2 separate regions of the Homo sapiens genome follow, and region 1 is linked to region 2. A link means that fine-mapping ties the variant in region 2 to the expression of a gene that starts in the linked region. Tissue or cell type: minor salivary gland. Region 2 holds a variant in brackets; the other region holds the start of a gene. All regions are shown on one strand. Distances are between the middles of the regions.

Region 1 (2,691 bases), 430 kb before region 2:
GTCTCACTATGTTGCCCAGGCTAGTCTCTAACTCCCAAGCTCAAACCATCTGCCCGCTTTGGCCTCCCAAAGTGTTGGAATTGTAGGTGTGAGCCACTGTGCCTGGCTAGAATATATTCCTTTTATCTATTTGCATGTTTCTACCCAGTAACCAATCATTCTCCATACCCTCCATCCCACTGAAAATTAAATAACTTACCCCACTGATGGCCTCTGGAAATGTCCTCACATTTAGATTTAATGGAGTGTGATAGACACTGGTGAAAGTGTTGTTCTTAGGGTTATGGCTACAACAAATAGGTATAAATCAAAATTAGAAATGTACTTTATCCAAATGATTGAGGGACTATTCTTAAAATTATTTTTAAATAATAACAGTTATTTTTAAAAAATCAATAAATGTAAAACTTAAAAATTAAGTTCGTGATTTTCCAGGCAATGCATCTTACAGAAAAAAAAGCAAATCAAATAAAATCGACATATATAACTGAAAGCCTAAATTTAACTGGAAATGATCACTTGAAAACTTTCTGAAGAAAGTAAAAAAGGATTCTGAAATTATTTAAAAGAAAATACTTCAAAGCTCTATATGCATATTTATGGCCATTACATTGTTCTGCACAGTATTTAATAATTTGACATGAGGTTATAGTGGATATATTTGATCTTTTACTTGGAAGAAATTTGAAGTTTTGTGTCCATTGCATAAAATCCCACCTTAGGTCTCTTTAATGACAGGATACAAGGGAACACTTTGGGAGAAGATATTTCTTGGATTTAACCCTGGGTTATATGATTTGAACGTTTAGTTGGCTCCTTGTTGAAAAACAAATAAAACTCAAGAGGTAGTGGTGGGGGCATCAAACACTTACGCGTGACAGTACGGCTTTTTCTGGTGACTCACAAAGTTATTAACAGACAGCATCATCTTGCAAACTTCACAGTGAAAACAGGCTTTATGCCATATCTAGAAATCATATAGAGAAGATTTAGCAATTACCCTTTTCCCCCCAGACTCAAGGTTCTTATATATTTTAGGGTAAAAAAATGAACTTCGAGGATAAAATGCTGATTTTAAAAAAATTAAAATCCACACACACAGCTATAACAACACTCACGGTTAAATAAATGGATAACTTTTTTTTTTTGAGACAACACAGAAGAAATAGAAATGTGTAGAACTAAATAAAGGTGAGAAAATATAACTTTTTCTTGTGGTTCAAAACAATTTAACTGAAAATTAAATTTCCATATTTACCTATGTCCATATGTGAGAAGGTCAATTTCCTGTGTTTGTTATTATTCACAAAAGCCAAGAAATGTCTACTGACCTGATCTATACAGCTGATCTTCTCGGCAGGATAAACCCCATACCCACACCTAGAACAGGGCTGCACATTCATCTCGAAGCCGGAAGAGAGAGGACAAAGATAGGCAACAGGCAAGAAATGCAAGGAGAACCCCCAGTCTAGTTCAAGTCTTCAAAATCCGACGACCATAAAATTCCTGTGGGCACCTCGATCTTTCAGAATCCAACTTCCACTTTCCTTTGCTGACCTTCTAGTTTGAAGTCAGCAGTTGGATGGTTTTTAAAGCTGCCACTTACTCAAGGGGCTATTTTGGCCACTCACTCAGCACGCATGTGTCTGGGAAATAAGGTGGAAGTATTTCTAGCTGACATGCTTCTCTAAATAGAAAAATGAACTCACAACAGCATCATGTTTATGTGGATAACCAAACCCTGGTGTATGATCAGGCAGCATGGAGTGGTTTAGCACTAGCTGTGATCATGACCCAAGAAAAGAACCTAAAGGAAGATGCCACACCGTCATCCAACAATCAAATTAGAAAAGCTTGCTCTATGCGTCCTATGACTAAAGCAGAAAGGCCAGCTCCCAAAAATATAGAAAATAAAATAGGATTGATTCACTCCTTTAAATGGATAAATATCACACTTGAATTTTAACTTTACCTACCCAAAGCGTTTACAACAGTTAAACTAAAAACTTAATAAGGTGTTAGTTTGTGTTTAGCTTCTACTGGAACGCAAAACTAAAAACTAATGAGAACTCTTGGTGTTTTGGCCTCTGTATTTTATTCTAGAATGTTCCAAGAAGGCCTTTGTGCTTGTTCCCTTGCCTCACAGGCCTTAAAAGAGGTGATATGAAGACAGAATCTCTCTTCCTGGCTTTGGGAAGCCTCTCATTGCCTTCAGTCTCTGCTGAAATGTCACCTTATCACCTTATAGAAATACCTGATACAAAATGGCACCTCACCTGTCCCCACTCCTATCTCATTATCTTCCATTACTCTTAGCCTGCTTGATGGTCTTCATAGTGGTAATCACAGCTGGACATATTACATGTTAATGTTTCTATTTTTAAAAATTGTGTCTCTCCCATCAAAATATGAGTTCTGTCTAAACAGGATCTTTGGTCCTTTTTGCCACTTCTATATCCCCCATGCCTAGAACAAGGTCTGCCAATAAAAGGTGCTTAATAAAGATTTATTGGATTAATGAAATAAATTTAATACTCACACCAAAATGCCTATAGAGGCCAGGTATGAAGTCTAGATAATGGTAGGAACTTTTCCAAATAGATGAGCACTCATCCCATCTGAAGCAGGCAACTGCTCCTCAGTCCCAGCCAACTGTCATCATGAAACAATCAACATTCCAGGTTGCCAAAT
Region 2 (2,691 bases):
ATCACGGGGGCAGTTTCCCCCATACTGTTCTCGTGATAGTGAATAAGTCTCATGAGATGTGATGGTTTTATAAATGGGAGTTTCCCTGCACAAGCTCTCTTGCCTGCTGCCATGTAAGATGTGCCTTTGCTTCTCTTTGCCTTCTGCCATGATTGTGAGGCCTCCCCAGCCATGTGGAACTGTGACTCCATTAAACCTTTTTCCTTTATAAATTACCCAGTCTCGGGTATGTCTTTATCAGCAATGTGAGAACGGACTAATATACCAAGTTTGCCAGCCCCTGCATTCTAGGTTCGGTACTGGGAGACACTTGCCTTGGCTATCAGGGCCCTGCATGACAGATCAGTACCCTGTCCTTCACTGGCCTCCAGGCAGGCAGCCATTATCCAAGTTGTCACCTTCCTTGAGGTAGTGCCTGCCCGTGGGAGTGCCCTGCACTGTTCCAGAGTCTCCTCTCCTGCCCTCCCACCAGCCTTGGGGCTCTGCTCCCTTTGTCCTCCTCTTCACCCCACAGAGCCCTGTCGTTCCAGTGGGTTGTGTACTGTCTCACACAGGAACTCCGACTGTTGAAAACAAAGATATCTAATGCTCCTTGGAGATAAAAGAAGTTCAGACATCCAGGACACGGAACCTGGCTCCTCATTTGGGATAAGAAGGGAAAAAAGCTACCTCTTTTTCTTTGTCGTAGAGCTTACAACTTGAGAAAAGTAGGAACGGTTAATTCTCAAGCTGGTAATTCCACCACCTCAAATGTTCTGTATATGGCCTTGCCCCACCCGCACATGAGGAGTGACATCACATGGTGATGGGAAGCATCAGCACCGGGCCCTGTACTATCCCCCACCCCGAAGAGGGAGATGGGGAAGGATCTTGCCATACACAGTCAGCCAGGAGCCCTGGCCAGGTCCACCAATGGGAGTAGCCAATAGAAAATAGTGTGGGCCTGAAACTGTCTTGGGGGATTCCAAGGTAACCACTCTGCATAAAAATGAGGCTCACAGACCATGTCAGAAAAGAACCTTGCAATGAATATAAGACTCTTCTTTCCTGATATGAGTTCAGAATATACTGTCTCCCAAGGCTTGACATCTGTCCTTTGGAGACATGTGTGAGCTTGCTCTAAATGGTTAAGTAAAGAATCAGGAGTGCCTTCCAAGTCCACGGCAGGATTGGGAACAAGGAGACCCTGCCTGGGGAACTTGATCACCACAGGGTCTGGACCACCTCTCTCAACATCACTGACCATGAAGCCCCAGGGGCCACTGCGGATAAAATGACTCCAACCTGGGCAAAAGCCACTGGGGTAC[AGG/A]GGGTGTGTGTGTGTGTGTGTGTGTGTGTGTGTGTGTGTTTCTAGAGTGTGAGCCCCCTTCCTTTGGGTAAGGGTAACCAAAATGGGCAGGGAGCGGGATTCGAGTAGAGATCTTTAGAGGAGGAACATGAGAAGGGGGCACCAAATGAGAACCAGGGGAGCCCAGTTAGGACTTGTGGGCGCACTGGCAGGATGGTGGCCACTACAGCCAGTTTACAGGAGACCCAGCAGCTTGTGCAATGTCAGGGTGCTCTCAGGGCAAGCTGCAGCATCTCTGCCCAGAGCAAAGACAGGAGGGTATCCATCCACCGGACCACCGCTAGAACTGATTTGCGGAATGGTCGCGGGATACACAGCCTCCCAGCTTCACTCTGCAGCCTCCTGGGATTCTGAGTCACCTAATACACTTTAATAAATTCCTTTTTTGCCTCACAGGGCCAGACTTGGTCTCTGTTATTTGCCATCAAGAACCTCAATTGACACGTTAATTCCGTTTATCCCAAATTTATATAGATAAGTGTCACATGGAAACAATTCCCTTGTGCCTGGAAACAGTAAATTAAATGGATGGAATGGAACCAACCAGGCTGCTGTATAGCAAAAGAGAATAAAAATGTGTCTTTGTTTCCTCCCTCCATAATGCATATTAAATAACACATCTTACATTACATCTAAGCCTCAGAAACTTAAAAACCACTAGTAAGCACACGAGGGCTTGTGAGTTAATTATAACAGCCTTTGCTAAGTTCGGCTTGTGGTTTTCCTCTTATAATGAAATGTCAAGAATGGGGGAGGTAAGCTCAGTCGTGTGTTGCCGCTGATGTTTTTAACCAAAGGATCTGAGGCTGTTTGATATTTTTGGCTTCATAATTCCCATTTCCAGTCCTGATTTGGAAATAAAGATTGAAGTCCAAAGAAAAAGAAAGAGTGTTTCCAAGATACAGAATAGTCTGGCGTTCCGAGGTAAAACCTTAAATGCCTGAGGTCCATCTTCCCATTCTTTTGAGATTGCTTTTTTCATGTAGCAAGCTGTACTTTCCTGTTGCTCTTTTTGCCCCTTCCTGCCTTAGGACTGTAGGCTGGTGTCTACCTCAATGTATTGCAGTATTCATTTTGTAGCTGCTGACTTATTTCTTCTTGGGATTCCTCTTGAAGAATAAGACTTCAAACTCAGGACTTGGCACCAAAAAGAAATGAAGGTGTCACCATGTTGCTGTTGGATGCCCATGGGGGTACAGAGCTGTGTTTCTCATCTTCTTTCACCCCTATCACATGAAGTAGAGCCCAACAGAAAAGGGGTTCCCATAGCTGAGGTAGGCGGGGTGGGCATTATGCTTCTTATTCAGCTTTGAAATTTCAAAAGCCAAGAGACAGAGGTCAGT

Direction of the effects. Alleles are on the strand shown, and positions count from the first base shown. SD is a standard deviation of normalised expression in the study named.
For the expression in minor salivary gland of the gene that starts at base 1,562 in region 1, A is the low allele of the variant in region 2 and AGG is the other (large effect, 1.2 SD a copy in GTEx).

What was found. PIP is the estimated chance that this variant, and not a neighbour inherited with it, causes the effect.
Region 1: it holds the start of NRAP, and the variant in region 2 is fine-mapped to the expression of NRAP in minor salivary gland (GTEx, PIP above 0.99).

What each region holds. Positions count from the first base shown.
Region 1 is chr10:113,662,480-113,665,170 of GRCh38, forward strand. It overlaps NRAP (nebulin related anchoring protein), which reads right to left and starts at 1,562. Exons shown (of 42, transcript NM_198060.4): 1 at 1,332-1,562; 2 at 873-967; 3 at 200-287. The coding sequence starts at 1,403.
Region 2 is chr10:114,094,063-114,096,753 of GRCh38, forward strand. No RefSeq gene overlaps it. Among named protein-coding and RNA genes, the nearest start is that of ADRB1, 52 kb to the left of the region's middle. The variant AGG/A (reference allele first, on the strand shown) is at 1,308.